Linked DNA regions of Homo sapiens: all the other regions are linked to region 3. The links come from fine-mapping of genetic effects on gene expression. A gene starts in region 3. Each other region holds a variant in brackets. All regions are shown on one strand. Distances are between the middles of the regions.

Region 1 (4,000 bases), 45 kb before region 3:
GTCTAAATCATGGCCAGCCCTGTGCGGACCATCGGGCAGGGACCCACCTCATAAGAACGCCATGTGGTATCTATAAGCAGAACCCTACAGACACGTGAAGCAGCAGGAAAACGAGACTCCTAAGCCAGGGGGAAAATGAGTCGGCACAAAGACGTGGGAAGCACAGAGATGCCGACTGAACAGACAGGGGCTTTGGGACAGCTACTGTGAACTTGGAATGCTCCAAGCCTAAAGGAAAACAGCTGAAGAGGAAGACGTACGGGTATCGTGAGAGAGCCACGAGGGGCTTCTGGAGCTGAGACACGGAGGATCGGAATGAAACGGCCACTAGGTGGAAGTCACAGCAGGCACCACAGAAGAAAAGGGCAGCGAACTTGAAGACAAAGCCACAGGAGCCACCTAGATGAATCCCACAGTAAGAAGCCTACAGGAAACGAACACCACCTCGGTGACCTGCGGACGACAGCAGGGGATCCCACGTGCAAGTAACTGGAGTCCTGAGGGCAGGCGGGGGATCTGAGAAAAGAGTGGCCAGAGATTCCCAAATGTAACAAATGCTATAAATCCACAGACCCAAGAAGCCTTGTCAACCCCCAGCAGGAAAACTACCAGGTCGTGGCGCATCATGAGCAAATCAGCACAGCCACAACAGTCGCCCCAAGTGCCGAGGTGCCGACACTGCACATCAGGAGCCAGCCCCGACACTGGGAGGGCATCTTCAAAGTGCTGAGGGAGAAACACCGCCAGACCACAATTCCATGCCCAGTGAAAAGAGAAAGGGAAATAAAGATTCGCTCAAACAAATGCTGAGAGAATCTTCTGTCAGCATCTGGCCTGCACTGTGAGGAAGGTTCTAGAAGTTCTTCAGAAGGAGGGAGAGTGACCCTAAATGGACCTATGGATTTGCAGAGGATGACGCGGGCACAGTGAGCATGCATGAATAGAAAAGGCTTTTTTCTTATGATGTTTCTGCAAAAGATCATTCAAGGCATAAATTACGGTAGTGAGGCTGGGGTTTTGAATGTGGGGTGCTAAATAGATGGTGATGAGAACACAAGGACTGGGTGGGGGGGATGAGAAAAAACACAGAAAGCAGCTGGGGTGCAGTGCCCTGACAAGCCAATCAAGGGCCCAGGAGGTGAGTGTCGGCTGCAGACAGGCAGAGCCAGCTAGGTCCCTTCACGGTGGGACCAGCTGTCACCCTCTGTGCTCACCAGCCTGGCCTGGTGGGGACGCCTGACAGCATGTGGCCCACCACACCCTCTTCTGGCTGCTCCCTCCAGAGCCAACATGCGTGGTGTCATGGCCGAACCCTTGTCAGGGGGGCCAAGCGCCTCGTTACCTCATCTATGAAGCAGGACAGAGGGTCAGGAACAGACTGTAGCACAGGTGATTTCCCTGCTGCCTTAGAAGCTTTGGGGTTGGCCTCAGGCTGCATTAATTAAATAACGGGGTAACTCAGTAGCACATGACACCTGCAGGGTACTGCCCATCTCACACCCAAGAACACCCAGCAGGGGAGAGCCATGCCTCAGGCCACCGCCTGCCCAGTCTCTGTAGACCCTCTGAGGGGTCATCACCCCCACAAGTCCTCTCAGGCCCTCGAGTGGCAAAAATCCAACTTTCATTACCCAGCATGAGGTATGGAACTGGGAGCTCCTGAGATACAAAGTCACCCCCGCTGCTGTACTTCAGGCCAGGGCCCCAGGTGGGAGCTGGGGAGCCTGGTAGGGCCGCCACAGCTGGCCTGACACAGTCAGCAGGTCAGCTGGGTCTTCAAGGCCGGACAGGCAGGCACTGAGCTGTGCCGAGGCTGGTGCTCCCCAGACCCAACTGGACTTCAGACCCTGACTCGGAGAACAGACCTCAACACAGCAGGGCAGTGATGCCTGCGCCCTGCGGTCACTTGGCCTGGGCGCCCACTGGGGCTACTGAACACAGACTGGGAGACTCCTGTAGGCAGCTCCCCCTCAATGAGGACACTCCTGTAAAGACAGCAATGCCTTTGGGAAAAGGGTCGAGGGTGCAGAGCCTGGGAGGCAGTGAGAGTCCTCAATGCTGAGACAGAGGAAAGGGTGAGGAGGAACCTCTCCAGGGCCAGAATCCCCTGATCCTCTCCCCTCCGGCAAAGAGCACTTCCGGGGATGAAGCAACAGGAAGTGGCTTACGAAATCCACCTCCAGGCCGAGTGACCAGTTTACAGGAAGTGTGGTGGGTGAATCTTCCCCAGGGCA[C/T]GAGGCAATGTCTGGAGCCATTTCTGGTCCTCACCACTGAGGGCGGGGACAGTCCCCACCATCTGGCTCGGGGGAGGCCAGGGATGCTGCTCAGCACACTGCAGGCAACACAGAACCTCCTGCCCCAAATGTCAAGCAGTGCAGGGGCTGAGAAGCCCTGGGCTGACCCTGCCACGGGAAGCGACCATCAGAGCAGAAAGCAGAAAAATCTATGGGAAAAAAGACCTGCTCCCTTCAACAAATATAAAATATAAATGGAAAAGTTACGGGTGAAGAAGAACGTATCTGATTGTTGGCCAGGCATGGTACCTCACACCTGTAATCCCAGCATTTTGGGAGGCTGAGGCAGGTGGACTGCTTGAGGTCAGGAGTTCAAGACCAGCCTGACCAACATGGTGAAACTCCATCTCTACTAAAAATACAAAAATTAGCCAGGCATGGTGGCATACGCCTATAATCCTAGCTACTCGGGAGCCTGAGGCAGGAGAACTGCTTGAACCCGGTAGGCGGAGGTTGCAGTGAGCTGAGATCAAGCCACTGCACTCCAGCCTGCACGACAGAGTGAGACTCCATCTCAAAAAAAAAAAAAAAAAAAAATCTAGGATTGTTTTAAAAACTCTCCAGCAAAGACAGAAACTAGGGAGAGGGCACAGTGAAGAGATGAGACACACAGACAGATGGACGGGGCCCAATCTGGCCAGGTCCCAGGATACCTGCTACCAGCCTGGGGACAATGAGGCCCAAGGCAGCAGGTGCCAAGGCTGCCCCAAAGACACATGATCCTTCCCACCACCCTCCAGAAGCACCCACTCAGCAGAAGTGCCCACTCTCCCCAGGCAGCACGTTCTCCCTGCTGTCTACTGGGCAAGGCCTGCCACCCCACCCCTGATGCAGGAAATGACAGAAAGGAATGCATCTGTTCCTTCTTCAGAAGTCCATCTTGCTGACTCTCCCAAGCACCAGTGTCAGCACACACGTCCTGATCTTACAGAGCTGGGTCACCCTGCCAAGCCACGGCGTGTGGTCCAGCAGAGGGAAGGTGAAGTCCCGGGAAGAGCCCTGGACGGTGGCCTCCCCACAACAGGCCCCCCCTTTCCAGTAAAGCACAAATGATTGGGAAACGCTATTCAGGAATCCTCCTTGAGACTTCCTGGCAGGACTGGAGCAGGACATTGAGGCCACGGAGAGTTTAGACAGTGACTGAGTGGGGCTGTCTCCGTGAACTACAAAACAAAGGAAGATCTGCCCAGTGAGCTTGGTTGGCTCAGGGACGAGCTAGGGAACTTGGACAGACACATTGTGGACCTCACTGGTTCCAGCCTAGGGAACCAGGTGGCCACGGTCAGGGCAGAGCAGAGGGCAGGACCCACGGCAGCTCCTCTGCCAGCCTGGGAGGACAGATGGTGTGTTCAGCAGGCCAGGTGGGCCTGTAAGAGCAGGAAAGGGACTCCAACTGGCTACAAGCCAAGTGTAATTCAGTGGCCGGCATAGCAAGTATTTTTTTTCTTTCTTTCTTTTTGGAGATAAGCTCTCACTCTGTCACCCAGGCTGGAGTGCGGTGGTGTGAACACGGCTCACTGCAGCTTCGACCTTCTAGGCTCAGGTGATCCTCCTGCCTCAGCTCCCGAGTAGCTGGGACCACAGGCACACACCAACACACCTGGCTAATTTTTCTATTTTCTGTAGAGATAGGGTTTTGCCATGTTGCCCAGGCTGGACTTGAACTCCTAGGTTCAAGCAACTCGACAGACTCAGCCTCCCAAAGT
Region 2 (4,000 bases), 60 kb before region 3:
AGTGGGCTGTGTGTGTGTGTGTGTGTGTGTGTGTGTTTGGGCGGGGGGCGGGGGGGGAAGGATTGTTTTGTTTTTTGAGACAGGATCCTGCTCTGTCACCCAGGCTGGAGTGTAATACAATCATGGCTCATTGCAGCCCCAAACTTCTGGGCTCAAGCGATCCTCCCACCTCAGCCTCTGGAGTAGCTGGGACCACAGGTGTGCACCACCATGCCTGGCTAATTTATATTATTTGTAGAGATGGGGTCTCACTATGCTGCCCAGACTGGTCTCAAACTCATGGGCCCAAAGGACCCTCCCACCTCAGCTTTCCAAAGTGCTGGTATTATAAACCAGAGCCATCCTGCCCAACCTGAGGCAGGGGCTGTTTGTAAACCCTTCTGATGTTAAACTGGGGGTCCCTGAACTGCAAGAGGCAGTCACTCCCAAGCCTGCACTTCAGAGTCCTATGCTGGCCCCATGTGGCTGCCATTTTTGTTTTTCTAAAGTCAGTAAAGATGTCGGAGCCACTTTCAGCAGCTGCTCTGAAGACCCTGAGGTGCAAGTGGCACCCCAGCCTTAGGCCTGGTCAAGCTCTCCTCTGGCAGGCGTGGCTGTGCCCAGAGCCCTGGGGAGAGCAGGTTCCCCTCTATCCCCAACGCAGAGACGTGGGCAGGGTCCAGCACGCTGCTCCCCTGCTCTGTCCTGAACAATGATGCCCCGGCATCCTTGGGAACAGGGTCGGCCGAGCAAGCTCAACAGTGCCTCAAATCCTTCCCCCAAAAGCTCTTCGTAACAACATCACTCTGATCTTATCTCTCAAAATCTGATCTGTCAAATTAACCCAGAAAGCCTTGCTTTCAGAATACCCAGGGCCAGTGCTCACACCTCTGGGGTCTGTTCAGTGGGGTCCTGACAGCAGGGCTGGACTCACCCATATAGGGCCAGGCTGATTGACAGGGAGGAGGAGCAACCTGAGGGGGGCACTGTGAGACAGAGGAACACGCACATTCACATCTTTTTTTTTTTTTTTTTTTTTTTTTTTGAGACAGAGTCTCACTCTGTTGCGCAGGCTGGAGTGCAATGGCACAATCTCAGCTCACTGCAACCTCCGCCTTCCAGGTTCAAGAGATTCTCCTGCCTCAGCCTCCCGAGTAGCTGGGACTCCAGGCGCACGCCACCACAACTGGCTAATTTTTGTATTTTTAGTAGAGATGGGGTTTCACCATATTGGCCAGGCTGGTCTCGAACTCCTGACCTTGTGATCTCCCTGCCTTGGACTCTCAAAGTGCTGAGATTACAGGTGTGAGCCACTGCATCTGGCCACATTCACATCTTAACAGACAGCGTCCCCTACCAGAACATAAACTGTTTCAAAAACCCTCACTGGGCCAGGGGCGGTGGCTCACACCTGTAATCCCAGCACTTTGGGATGCTGAGGTGGGCGGATTACGAGGTCAGGAGATCGAGACCGTCCTGGCTAACACGGTGAAACCCCGTCTCTATTAAAAATACAAAAAAAAAGAAAATTAGCCGGGCGTGGTGGCAGGCACCTGTAGTCCCAGCTACTCGGGAGGCTGAGGCAGGAGAATGGCGTGAACCCGGGAGGCGGAGGTTGCAGTGAGCCGAGATCGCGCCACTGCACTCCAGCCTGGGCGACAGACCGCGACTCCATCTCAAAAAAAAAAAACCCTCACTGTACCCAAAGTGGTGTGCTAAGATACATTTCTGATCAAGTTTTTGGCTGAAGGACCCACAGATTTATTAACATGTATATGGGGCCAGGTGCGCTGACTCATGCCTGTAATCCCAGCATTGTGGGAGGCCCAGGCGAAAGGATCATTTGAGCCCAGGAGTCAGACACCAGCCTGTGCAACATAGCGAGGCTCTGTCTCTACAAAAAATCTAAAAGTTAGCCATGTGTGGTGGCACACACCTGTGGTCCCAGCTACTCTGGAGGCTGAGGTAGGATCACTTGAGCCTAGGAGTTTGAGGCTGCAGTGAGCTATGATTGTGCCACCGCACTCCAGCCTGAGTGACAGAGAAAGGTCCTGTCTTTAAAAAAAGAAAAAACA[A/G]AAAACAAAACACGCTGTCTCTTCAACTGTTCTCCCCACAGCAGCCCTGTGCTTGGGGCTTACAGCCCAGGGCCTCAACATCATGGACAACCCGGGCTCCCTGGCCATACAACATGTCCACCCGGACTCAGTGTTGACCAGGAAGACCAACCCCTGCACCCACATCTGGGGTTTCACTCAGAGGGAACCCCTCTGCTCAGCAAAGGGAAATCACGTGCTTTCTTCGGAAGGAGGAGAGAGAGGAATTGAAATGCCCCCGCCTTTTCTTAAAGATAAAACTCAAAAAGCCATCAAGGCTGTCGTCTGCTCTGAGCCATCTCCCTCCTCCCTGAAGCCCGGCACCCTACTCCTGCCGTAATGAGTTCCCATGACTCCTGGAGCTCTGCCTGGACTAAGAGGCGGGGTGCTGCAGCTCTGTAAACAAACAGCACTGTGCTTCCCACTGTCAAGGCCTGTTGGCTTCTCAACTGCTGAAACCGTTTCCAAGTTGATGCTGAGTGGCCAGAGCTTTCCTGCAGTGCTGGGTCGCTGGCAACAGGGCCTGTGAGGCTCATTTCCTGCCTGTTGCCGGCTGTGGTGGCGTTGGGCAGGAGCTGGCTGGTCAGGTGAGGGTGGGGGCAGCCTCCAGAGACAGACATGGGCCTTGCCCTAGGCTGCATGCCCATCTTCAGGGAGCCTGTTGATCTCCCTGACAGGTGAAGGTCCCCAAGGCTGCAGCCTGAAAGCAGGGACCACCAACTCACAGCTCCTGGAGTTCTCAGGCCCCTTTGTCCACCTCAGGCTTCACAAGCCAGCAGCTGCCATAACCCAACCCCCTATCCCTCACATAGCCCCCAGGCCCATGTGGCCATACCTCTCTTCCCAACCCAGACTCTGGTCCAGGCACGTCCTGCTCAGGGACCGACTCCTCGGTTGACCCATCATTTCTGTGCAGGGCACAGCCAGTGCCCAGCCTGGACAGGCCCCAAATGTCTCCCGACACTGGCAGCTGCCCGGCTGCCCTACAGCCCTGCCAAACCCACTGCTCACCCAGGTAGCGGCCTCCAGCCTTGATGACAATGGCACTTCGGCTCCGCGTCTCCTCCTCCGCCTGGGCCATGCTCTGCCGCGCCTTCTGGTAGGAGTCGTCGGTGGCACACACCGTGATCTTGTCCTGTATGCTGCCCAGGCAGTCCAGGTGAACTTCCCCATGACTGCAAGACAAGGCCAGGAGCTGGGGTCAGCAGCTGGGACAATGCAGGGAGGATCCGTTGAGGGCCCAAGCCCCCAGCCCACCACCTGGCCTGGAAAATGGACTCTGTCAACACCATCTCAGGCAATATGGTTTCAATGGGGCACATCTCAACCCTGGGCCAGAGGTGGCAGGGTGACCTCAAGAGCCGGCGGGGTGCTCTGGGGTGGGGCGGCGCCTCACCTGGAGACATACTGCTGGATGCAGTCGAAGCTGCCCTGGGGGTTGTCGCGGCCGATGTTGGAGAGGTAGAAGGAGAACGTCCGCGCCTCTGCGGGGCAGTCAGGCTGGGGGATGGAGATGTGCTGCGTGGAGGGGGAGGGGGTGTCACTGGGAGGTCCTCGGCAGGACAGGTCCCCAGCCTGCATCTTCCTGCATGAGTCCCCACAGTGCAACCCTCACAACAGGAATGTGCTGGCCCTTTTCCCTAAAACACACCCCTGCTCTTCAGCCAGTGACGGGACAGGCAGCCCATCCTCAGCAACACACACTGCGTAGAGAGGGGACTCAGGCACCTATGCGGGTGGGCATGGGGCCAGGGGCCGTTTTCAGCAGCAACAGCACTGCTGTCTGAGGACAGTGCTCAGCACCTGCCCAGATGCAGGGCCCCCACCCCAATCGTGTGACCCCTGGAAAGTGGTTTGTCTGGACCATGACTCACTTTCCCCACCACCAAATGGACAGACCTGGCCTGCGACACCCTATGAGGTAAAAT
Region 3 (7,507 bases):
GCTGTTTCTAGGAAAGCCTGCCTTCCTGCAGGACAAGTCAGAATCGCTCAGGGAAAAAGACCCAGGGCCAGAATTCTACCAGGAAGAGAGGCTCTGGCTGGTCATGGGCCAGCAGCTGCTGTCGCTGCCACTGTCTCCTCCTCACCTGCAGGGGCGCCTTAGCCTCATCTTGGGGAGTCTTTTTGACAAGGTGCGAACTTGCTCTTTCAAAAAAAAATGAAATCCTCATTCCATGAAGGGGAAAACTGCGACACCGGGACAGGGAGGAAATTGCCCAAAGACATGGGAAGAAGCACGGAAGGGGTGGGCACCGGGAGAGTGGTGGAAACGAAACAGGGGGAAGAAATTCTCGGCTTAGCTAATGGAGCTGAACAAGTTCGGGGCAGGAAGAAAGCCACATTCCTTCCTAGTTAGTCTCCCTCCTCCCCCGCCCGCGGCACCCCCCCACCCCCACCATCAACAGTATACACAAACACACACACACGCAGGGAGCAGGGCTCTCTGAGCCCGAGACTAGACCCACCCCCACTCCCTTTAGGGCAATGAAGCCCCCAATTTCCAGAAAAGGAGTTACAAGGTTCCTAAACCACTTCCCCTCGGGACCTGACCACTGGTCATCTGCAACTTCTGACCCAGCACAGACGGGGGGAGGGGGGGCCATGACACAAACAGAAATGAAAAAGGCAGGTTTCTGACCACGGCCCCAGATGCGCCCCAAAGTCAGGCCCAAGAGAACATACACAGCAGCCTCCCCTCCCCACCACCAGCCAGGTGGCAGAACCGAAACGCCTCAAACTTCCCCCAGATGGGCCCAAATCGGCCTCTGAGAAGTTCCAGAGTCAGCGGCCAGATGTGGTAGCCAGAGCTTCCTCCTGGGTGGCAGGGATCCCCTACATGTGCCCTGAGGATAACATCACAGCCGCCCCCAACACTTCCACTCTCCAAGGAACCTCTCTCCGGAGAGAGAGGGTCACCTGGGGGTAAGGGGAGCAGAAAGCTGGGACAAGCTGTCAGTTTCTGCCCAAACTCCCCGTCCCAAGAACCAAAGTGGCCCAACCTGAGTGGCTTCATCGGAACGCGTCAAAGCCAGCCCCCAGCTGCAAAGCCTTCCACCCAGACAGAACAGACCCCCACAAGTGCCTCGCTGACCACCCCCTGCCGGGCACCCAGACGATCGCTGCTTCCCAGGAGGACAGACACAGTCACCCCCACCAACGGCGCTGCCCCGGCCCCAGATGGAAAAGCCCCCAGCTTCCCCCTATCACGGTGCCGGGACCGTGCGGCCCACCGCCTCCTCGCCCCGCCGCCAGGTGCGCAAACTGGACCCTGCCCAGGTGCCCAGCAGGCCAGAAAGGCCCCGGACGCCGCCAGGTGCCGACACCGACGCCCCCCGGGCCCGGCGCGCGAGTCTGGGCCCCTCAGCAGCCCCGGGCCACCCGCCTGTATTGCCTCCTAGTGCTGAGAAGGAACGCGGTTCTCAGCGCTCCAGGCCGGACTGGCGCCCACTCCGCGCCCCGCCGGCCCAGGGACCCGCGAGCAGCACCACAGACCTAGCGTCTCCGAGCCCGGACGCCTCAGTGAGGGGAGCGCGAGGCCGGCCCGCGTCCGGACGTTCCCCACTGGCGCGCCGGGCGCCATGCCACTCACCTGTCTGGCGCGGTAGCTCTCGAAGGCCCTCAGGGCACTGTCGGTGAGCTTCACGTGGAACACCGACACCTTGCTGCCGTCGCTAACCCGCCCGCACGACAGCCCGTAGCTCCTATCCTCCTTCAGCGCCGCCATCTTGCGACCATCTCTCCCCCGCGCCCCCTTCCCGGCTCCAGCGCCGCCACGCCGGCCACGCCCCGCCCCGCCGCCCGCTGACGCGCTGCATTATTCATGAGACGCGGCTGGCCACGCCCCCCGAGTCCGACCAAACCAACAGTCGCCGCCACACCGGCAGGCAGCGCACTACATTATTCAGGAGACGCGCCTGGCCACGCCCCATGAGGGCCCCACAAGGCCCACAGTCAACGCCCCAAGTTGTTGCATATTCATAAGGCACTTATGGCCCCGCCTCTTCAGGCCCTAGGGGTGGCCACTTCCGTGAACGAACTCCGCCTCAACACGCGCACCCCTCCAGGCCCCGCCTCCATAGTATTATACATAACCCTGACTCAGCCAGCCAGGCGCGTCAAAGCCCCGCCCCTACAGCCGCTGACGTGATGCATTATTTATGAGATCTCTACAGTCTTCCGTCTTTGGCTTCTGTGGAAAGCCGCAGAGAGGGCGTGGAGGGGCGGAGCCGGCTCGAAACACGTGGGTGGGTAGGCCCCGCCGCGGGCCGGGAGGGTGGGCGTGGCTATGTAAACGGAGCGCGCGCGTTGGACGCTGGGTTGGACACATAAGGCATCCCTTAGGCGGGGTGGATGGGACTTCCACCCAGGGAAGGTGCTGGACCGGTAGGTGGAAGAGGAGCTGGTAAACTTTTTCTTATGAGATGAGTACTTTTAATAGGATAAAATCCTACATCCCCACAGTCCCTGAGCGATGGTGCAGTCCAGCTTCATTTTCCTATTTTAATTTTTTTTTGAGGGGTCTTGCTGTGTTGCCCAGGCTGGAGTGCAATGGCGCCATCATGGCTCACTGCACCCTCGACCTCCTGAACTCAAACTGATCCTCCTTGTCTGGGTCTGCTGAAATGCTAGGATTACAGGAGTGAGCCACCAAGCCCAGACTTCCATTTTCTTTTCTTTTCTTTTTTTTTTTTTTTGAGACGGAGTCTTGCTCATCAGCCCAGACTGGAGAACAGTGGCGCTATCTCGGCTCAATGCAACCATCGTCTCCTGAATTCAAGCGATTCTCCTGTCTCAGCCTCTCGAGTAGCTGGGATTACAGGCGCCCGCCATCATGCCCAGCTAATTTTTGTATTTTAGTAGAGATGGGGTTTCACCATGTTGACCAGGCTGGTCTTGAACTCCTGACCTCAGGTGATCCGCGCGCCTCGCCCTCCCAAAGTGCTAGGATTACAGGCGTGAGCCACCTCCCCCAGTTTTTGTTTGTTTGTTTGTTTTTAGACAGAGTTTCGATTTCCTTGCCCAGGCTGGAGTGCAGTGGTGTGATCTCGGCTCACTGCAACCACCGCCTCCTGGATTCAAGCAATTCTCCTGCCTCAGCCTCCCGAGTAGTAGCTGGGACTGCAGGCGCCCATCACAACGCCCAGCTAATTTTTTGTATTTTTAGTAGAGACGGGATTTCACCATGTTAGTCAGGCTGGTCTGGAACTCCTGACCTCAAGTGATGCACCCACCTCGGCCTCCCAAAGTGCTGGGATTACAAGCATGAGCCACTGTGCCCGGCCAGCCTTCCATTTTCTAAAAAGCAACTTCATTGAGTCACATTTTACATATAAAATATATTCCCAATGCTGTGTAGCTGTCACCACTATCTAATTTCCGAGATTTTTTTTTCTTTTTCTTTGAGACAGAGTTTCACTCTTGTTGCCCAACCTGGAGTGCAACGGTGCCATCTCAGCTCGTTGCAACCTCCGCCTCCCAGGTTCAAGCGATTCTCCTGCCTCAGCCTCCCGAGTAGCTGGGATTACAGATGCCCACCACCACGCCCAGCTAATTTTTGTATTTTCAGTAGAGACGGGGTTTCACCATATTGATCAGGTCTCTAACTCCCAACCTCAGGTGATCCGCCTGCCTAGGGCTACCAAAGTGCTGGGACTACAGGCGTGAGCCACTGCGCCTGGCCAAGGGAGGAGCTGGCTTGGAGGGCCAACCAGCTCGCTCTGTGATCTTGTGAAAGGCACCTCCTGCTTCTGAGCCTCTGTGGATTCACTTCGGAAACAGGAAACAGCAATAAGAGCAGTACTCAGGACCTAGCAAGGTGTCTCACACCTGAAATCCCAGCATTTTGGGATGCCATGACGGGAGGATCGCTTGCACCCAAGGGCTTGAGACCAGCCTGGGTAACAGGGCTAAGCCCCCTCTCTACAAAAAAATTTAAAAAATTAAAAAAATTAGCCGGGCATGGTGGAGCACCCCTGTGGTCCCAGCTACTCCGGAGGCTGACATGGGAGGCTCTCTCAAGCCCATGGGAGGTTGAGGCTGTAGTGAACTATGTTCGCACCACTATATTCCAGCACTCCAGCCTGAGTGACAGAGTAAGACCCTGTCTCCAAAAAAAAAAAAAAAAAAAAAAAAAAAAAGCCAGGCCCCCAGTGGCTCACGCCTGTAATCCCAGCACTTTTGAAGGCCGAGGGGGCTGGATCATGAGGTCAGGAGTTCGAGACCACCACGACCAACATGGTGAAACCCCGTCTCTGCTAAAAACACTAAAATTAGCCAGGCATGGTGGCACACGCCTGTAATCCCAGCTACTCAGAAGGCTGAGGCAGGAGAATAGCTTGGACCCAGGAAGCAGAGCTTGCAGTGAGCCGAGATCGTGCCACTGCACTCCAGCCTGGGTGACAGAGCAAGACTCGGTCCCAAAAAAAAAAAGTATTTCTCCACGTCTACTTTACATTTGATTCCCCAGTGGATCTCAATGAGACCCCAGGAAAAATAAGGCAGAACTTATCAGACGTTGGCATGCTCTGCAGAAGTTTCTTTTTTTTTTTTTTTTTTGAGACGGAGTCTCACTCTGTCGCCCAGGCTGGAGTGCAGTGGCACAATCTCGGGTTCACTGCAGCCTCCGCCTCCTGGGTCCAAGCGATTCTCCTGCCTCAGCCGCCCGAGTAGCTCGGGTTACAGGCACGTGCCACCACGCCTGGCTAATTTTTTGTATATTTAGTAGACGGGGTTTCACCGTGTTAGCCAGGATGGTCTCGATCTCCTGACCTCATGATCCGATGATCCGCCTGCCTCAGCCTCCCAAAGTGCTGGGATTACAGGCGTGAGCCACCATGCCTGGCCTTTTTTTTTTTTTTTTTTTTTGGAGACAAGTTCTCACTCTGTCACCCAGGCTGGAGTGCAGTGGCATGATCTCGGCTCACTGCAGCCTCCAACTCCTGGGCTCAACCCATCCTCCCACCTCAGCCTCCCAAGTAGCTGAAATTACAGGCATGCTCCACCATACTGGGCCAATCTTTTGTATTTTTTGAAGAGATGAGATTTTTCCATGTTGCCCAGGCTGGTCTCTAACTCCTGGGTTCAAAAGATCCTGTCGCCTAGCCTCCCAAAGTGCTAGGAAGTGCTAGGATTATAGGCCATAAGCCACTGCACCTGGCCGTCTGCAGACATTTTTGTTTCTTTGTTTTGAGACGGAGTTTTGCTCTTGTTGCCCAGGCTGGAGTGCAGTGGCACGATCTCGGCTCACTGCAACCTCTGCCTCCTGGTTCAAGTGATTCTCCTGCCTCAGCCTCCTGAGTAGCTGGGATTACAGGCACACGCCACCACACCCAGCTAATTTTGTATTTTTAGTAGAGACGGGATTTCACCATGTAGGTCTCGAACTCCTGACCTCAAGTGATCCACCCGCCTCGGCCTCCCAAAGTGGTGGGATTACAGGCGTGAGCCACCGTGTCCGGCTTTGTCTGCAGAAATTTTTAAGAACTAGGTTACCCATGGCCAGGCATGGTGGCTCACGCCTGTAATCTCAGCACTTTGGGAGGCCGAGGCGGGTGGATCACTTGAGGTCAGGAGATCGAAACCATCCTGGCTAACACAGTGAAACCCCGTCTCTACTAAAAATACAAAAAAATTAGCCAGGCATTGTGGCAGGCGCCTGTAGGCCCAGCTACTCCGGAGGCTGAGGCAGGAGAATGGCGTGAACCTGGGAGGCGGAGTTTGCAGTGAGCCGAGATCGCGCCACTGCACTCCAGCCTGGGTGACACAGCGAGACTCCATCTCAAAAAAAAAAAAAAAGGAACTAGGTCACCCACAATATTGCAAGTGAGTTGATCACCCTGGGGTGCCCCCCGGACACATAGTCCACCTGGTGAGCTCTCTGATGGAAGCAGTGACCCCACCCTGCCCCTTACCCCGTGTGTGGTCTTGGACACATCTTGCCATCTCTGTTCCTCAGTTTGCTCATCCAGAAAACAGGGAGTGTAACAGCATCTACCTGATTCTTCTGTGACAATGACATGAGACAAGGACATGTGTAGCTCGCCCTGTTCAAGTGTTCCAGAATTGTGAGCTCGCGTACACATACAAAATTCCTTCCGCAGTGCTCACTTCCAATTCACAGCCCATGGCAAGTCGGGTAAGGCCCTCCTGAGTCACTGCTCAAGGCCAGGTATATGGGAGGTGTTAGTAAATGCTTTGGTATGAAAGACAAAGCCATCCCCGTCGTTCTCCAAAGGTACCACACATGGTCCAGCTGGCATACCTTGCACAGCTATGCCATCCACAAGGGATACCCTTCACCACCCATTAAAGGCATCCCATGCCTTCAACACAACTGCAGCGTCACACGTGCTGGATGCTCCAGCTCACCACCCACAACCAGCTCAGACCTTTGAGGATGAAGTGGCCGAGTGAATAACCACATTCAATTTCACACTCCTAGTCTGGCCATTCGGGGCCTCTCTCCTCCCCGTCCCCGCACCATGTCATAACTTGCATGTTCTAGGCAGCTCCGGGCCTATTTCTTTTTTCTTTTTTTGAGATGGAGTCTTGCTCTGTCACCCAGGTTGGAGTGCAGTGGCGCGATCTCAGCTCACTGCAAGCTCCACCTCCTGGGTTCACGCCATTCTCCTGCCTCAGCTTCCCATGTAGCTAGGACTACAGGCGTGTGCCACCACGCCCGGCTAATTTTTTTGTATTTTTAGTAGAGACACCACGTTGGCCAGAATGGTCTCAATCTCCTGACCTCGTGATCTGCCCGCCTTGGCCTCCCAAAGTGCTGGGATTACAGGCTTGAGCCACCGCGCCTGGCCAGCGGGGCTATTTCAACTCCAGACATTGGCACCGGCAGTTTGCTTGGCCAGGAAGGACATTTCCTTCCTTTAATAAAGCTTTTTTAAAAGTTTATCAAACAAGCAGCCAGGAGTAGTGGCTCATACCTATAATCCCAGCACTTAGGGAGGCAGAGGTGGGGGAATGACTTGAAGTCAGGAGTTCAAGACCAGCCTGGTCAGCATGGTGAAACCCTGTCTCTAATAAAAATACAAAAATTAGCCGGGTGTGGTGGCACGTGCCTGCAGTCCCAGCTACTCCGGAGGCTGAGGTAGGAGAATTACTTGAACCCAGGAGGCAGAGGTTGCAGTGAGCCGAGATCGCCCCACTGCACTGCAGCCTGGGCGACAGAGTGAGGCTCCGTCTCAAAAAAAAAAAAAGTGTATCAAACAAGTGAGTGAAATATTAACTATCAGTCTCACATTTAGCCAGGTCTAGGCTGCAATTCAAGACTAAAATATTGGCTGAGAGCAGTGGCACGTGCCTGTAGCCCCTGCTACTTGGGAGGCTGCAGTGGGAGAATCACTTGAGTGCAGTGGGGTGGGTCAATGCTGCAGAGAGCTGCAATGGTGCCACTGTACTCCAGCCTGGGTGACACAGCAAGACCGTGTCTCTAAGAA
Region 4 (4,000 bases), 77 kb before region 3:
GGTGGTGGGGCAACTTTGGCCTCAGACTCAAAGGCTCTTCCCCCACACCTTGGAAGTAGCGGGCAGGGAGGCTGCCCCGGGCCCACCCTCCTCCCTCCAGCTCCCATGGCTCACTTGGAGCCCACCCCAACACAAGAGACACTCACCTTTTTGATTTTTCGATATTCCTGCAAAATCTGCCCTCGAGTAGTCTAGAAGAAAAACAAAATTTTGAGAAAACAGAATGTGTCCCCGCCTACAGGAAACCCAAATTGAGTGGTCCCAGGTGCTCTGAGAAGGGGGCATGGGAGGGTGGGGCAGCCTCAAGGACAAGGCCAAGTAACACCCCAGGGGCCCACAGCGGCTGTAGCTCCGGAGTGGGTGGGGCATGAGGGAAAGGCTGCCGGGTCCCCTGGAGGCAATAGCAGGTGGGGCACTGCTGTTGTGGGGGCGTGGCAGGACAAGGAAGTATCCATGTCGTGGGGGGGTGGGGAGGGGGTGGGGGGGTGCAGCAAAGAGGGAGGGAAGGGGAAGGAGAGATGCCCCAAGAACCCGTGGCTCGCAGCCCCTAGAACCCCATCATGAGTCGTCGTCTTTGGAAGGCAAAGGGGCCTTGGCCAGGAGAGACCCCGGCATCTGATTAATCAGGGCCCAGCCCTGTAGTCAGGTCACCAGTTCCGAAAGGTGGCAGGTGGGGCGGCTACGTCCAAGGCTAGGCTAAGGGTGGAGACTCTCTGTATACACAGGGCAGCTGAATGAGCTGTGAGCTCAAGCCAGGGGACCACAGGAGTCCTGATTCCCAGGACCACAGGGACCTGTCACCTCCCCCTGCTATAGTTGTGGCAGCATGGATGGGCCCCAGGGTGCTGGACAGAGCTCAGCTGCGGAGTCTCCTGAGGGTTTGGCACAGGTACCAAGAGCCCTGTGTCCTAGGCTGTGAGAGGACCCCAGGCGCTCAAACATGTGGGGATCCATGTACCCCGGCTCGCCCCCATCCAAGGAGGTGGGTCACAGCTGTCCCCACTGCAAAGGAGGCTGACAAGCTGGGCTGCCTTCAAGGACTCCCACAACAGGACCCCAGGGCCGGGCCAGAACCATGGGGTTGCTGCATGGAGTGCACCAGGGGGAGAAGCGCTGCCTGGGGAAGGGCCAGACTCTGGGGCCACCAAGCTCGTGGTGGCGATGGTGCGCGCCCAAGTGGGCCCTGGCTCCCGCCAGAGCCAGGGCACAGTAGGCAGCGGGGGGGCTCTACCTCATACTCCTCGGAGCCCTGGGAGAGCTGCCGGAGCTGGGCGTCGAGCTGGGTGAACCGCCGCGTGATGCGCTCAATGCGGGCGTGCAGGTCGCGGTACTCGCTGTACTCGGCATTGAAGTCGTTCTTGTAGCTCTGGCGCTGCTCCGAAGAGGAGATGGCTGCGTACTTCCTGAAACAGGAGAGAGGGGCCACTGAGTGGAGGCTGGAAGGACCCAGCCCCACCCAGGAAGTGGCCATCCTGGCTCCACCGGCGGCCTGGCCTCTCGGGTGATTCCCTGGATTATGAGGGGGCCTGGCCCAGAAGAGGCTGCTATGTTTGGAATTCACATACTCAGACTTGCAGTGGCTTCTACCTCTGATAACCTGCAGTGCTGGGGGAGGGGGTCTGAACCCAGAAAAGGGAGGCCTGGCCTGCAGGGCCCAGACAAACACTCACAGCAAGTAGTCAGGCGTCTCCGACGTGGACGTGGGAACACTGGAAACGCTGCAGGTTCCGTTTAAACCTACGAGAGCAAACACATACCTCCTGAGTCTGCGCCCATGGCACCGGTCGGCAGGAAGCACGCCAGGATGGGGACATGCATGAAAACTGTACACTTTGCTGCTGGAGGGACATAGAGGGATAGCAGAGGGGATGACTGTGTGGCAGGTGCAAGGGCTGAGCCCCTCGCACCTGGCAACTGTGGGCTGCTGGACCTGGGCGTGCCCTCCAGGTGGTGAGCAGAGCTCAGCGTGCACCTGCGTGTC[C/T]AGGGCAAAGCCCTGCAGGACACAGAGCACCCAGGCATCACCACAGTCACATTCTTGGCAAACAGCGGACAGGTCAGGGAACTGCAGGGCCAAAGCCTGCACAACCGGTCAGAGCTTCCCCCAGGCCAGGCCCTTGCTGCCTCCACTGACTGCATGTCAAAGGTCACTAAGCTGAAAACAAATGACCCCTGGCTTGACCTGAGTCTCTGGGGCATCCCAGTCTCTGGCCAGACAGGACAAAGACAAGATGGCCAGCAGGGCCTGCATCTCTTGCTGCTGACAAAGTTCCACGCCCTTGGTCTGTGCCCCACCCAGATCATCCCGTCCTTTCCACTAGACACTGAATTGCACGCTCCACAAGGCAGCTCCAGGACAGGGCCAGCCAGAGGAGCCCATGGGCCACCCCAATCGGCCATCCATGAGCAAAGTGTCCATGATGACGCTCAGCCCTTCGCCCCTTCAGGGGCCTGCCCAAAGCAGCACAGCTGATGGCTAGATGGCACCCCAGGCAGCTGTCCTGCTCCTGAGCCATGTGGTGGGGTGCCCCGGCCACATAAGACAACACCCCTGAGGGTCTGGAAATCAGGGAGGGGAGGGGCAGGAAGACTGAAGTGCGCGTCGCCTAAGACCACAACTACAATTTAGTGCGTTTTCTAGACCTTCTTGCAGTGGCTTTCTTTCCGATACAGAAATGATTTTATCAATTTCAGATGTATCCTCAATACACTTTTTTTTTTTTTTTAGAGACAGGGTCTTGCTCTGCCACCCAGGCTGGAGTTGCAATGGTGCGATCATGGCTCACTACAACCTTGAACTCCTGGGCTCAAGTGATCCTCTTGCCTCAGCCTCCCAAGTAGGTGAGACTACAGGCATATGCCACCATGCCCAGCTAATTACAAAATTTTTTTGTAGAGATGGGGTCTCACTGTGTTGCCCAGGCTGGTCTGAAACTCCTGACCTCAAGCAATCCTCCTGAACTGGCCTTTCAAAGCGTTGGGATTAAAGGCATGAACCACCACACCTGGCGAATTTTTTTTTTTTTTTTTTACTTTTTAGTAGAGATGAGGAGGCTTGCCTATATCGCCTAGGCTGGTCTTGAACTCCTGGACTTAAGTGATCCTCTTGACTTGGCCTCTCAACATGCTGGGATTATAGGCGGAACCACTGTGCCTGGCCCTAGTGCACATTTTCAGGGGCCCTCTGCACTATCCCCTGAGAGAGCAGGAGTCTGCGATCTCCAGTTTGCTGAGCCCTCTCTCTCAGTGTAACACACCTGGGCTGACCACAGCAGCTTCTCTGCTGCCAAATTCCCAAAAGTGGACGAAGCTCACTCCCCACAAAGTTTCTAACACTCCCCACTTTGGGCCAGACACTGTCTTCCATATCACCACCACCCCCACCTGGGTTGTCTTTAAGAGGCTGTGGCCTTCCCAGGGACGCAACTCAATGGGCATGTATTGAATGGGTCTGACCCTGGTCCGGGCCAGAAGGAAGTGAGAGGCAAGGCGCAGCTGCGAAGGCCAAGCCCATGCTCCCGCCACGCAGTGGACTCCGTGGGTATTCTACAACAGATAACTGCCATGTGTCAGGCTGGTCAACATTACCTCATTTGACATGCCCCAAGATCTTCACCAGCTAGGATGACAAACGGGGAAATCAAGGCTCAGGGTCAGCTCAACCTGGTACCAGTGGGACCTTCAAAGTCCAGCCCTTGGCAAACCTCAGCGGCCCCCGACTCCTACTCAAGCTCTGGCTGTGTGGGGCCGGCCAAGCTGGTCCCTGCTTCGGGGCCCCGGAGAACACCCCCACAGCAGCTCCTCTCCCCATCTCTCCCCTTCACAGCCCACGTCTCTCTACTTGCTTGTCCTGGGCACGGGCACAGGACAGCTAAGACATGCCCTGCACAAGTACCACCTTCAGGACTCTGGTAACATGGACCACCAGCACCAGGCTCAGCTTCTGGTGCCTCCACTGTCCTTTTCTTGGTGCTTGGGACATCTACCCCTGCTTTGCATTTTC

What was found.
Region 1: its variant is fine-mapped to the expression of ELL in whole blood (INTERVAL, PIP 0.99).
Region 2: its variant is fine-mapped to the expression of ELL in whole blood (INTERVAL, PIP 0.97).
Region 4: its variant is fine-mapped to the expression of ELL in whole blood (TOPMed, PIP above 0.99).

Annotation. Positions count from the first base shown.
Region 1 is chr19:18,476,899-18,480,898 of GRCh38, forward strand. All of the region lies in intron 1 of ELL (elongation factor for RNA polymerase II), which reads right to left. Among named protein-coding and RNA genes, the nearest start is that of ISYNA1, 41 kb to the left of the region's middle. RefSeq lists enhancers at 1-400, 1,656-2,558, 1,972-2,041. The variant C/T (reference allele first, on the strand shown) is at 2,235.
Region 2 is chr19:18,462,329-18,466,328 of GRCh38, forward strand. It overlaps ELL (elongation factor for RNA polymerase II), which reads right to left. Exons shown (of 12, transcript NM_006532.4): 3 at 3,469-3,590; 4 at 3,084-3,247. Among named protein-coding and RNA genes, the nearest start is that of ISYNA1, 26 kb to the left of the region's middle. The variant A/G (reference allele first, on the strand shown) is at 2,055.
Region 3 is chr19:18,520,274-18,527,780 of GRCh38, forward strand. It overlaps ELL (elongation factor for RNA polymerase II), which reads right to left and starts at 1,797. Exons shown (of 12, transcript NM_006532.4): 1 at 1,648-1,797. The coding sequence starts at 1,782. RefSeq lists silencers at 481-530, 1,261-1,570 and enhancers at 786-1,301, 1,302-1,817, 1,961-2,290.
Region 4 is chr19:18,445,078-18,449,077 of GRCh38, forward strand. ELL (elongation factor for RNA polymerase II) reads right to left here. Exons shown (of 12, transcript NM_006532.4): 9 at 1,671-1,737; 10 at 1,232-1,403; 11 at 147-191. Among named protein-coding and RNA genes, the nearest start is that of ISYNA1, 8.9 kb to the left of the region's middle. RefSeq lists an enhancer at 1,244-1,772. The variant C/T (reference allele first, on the strand shown) is at 1,982.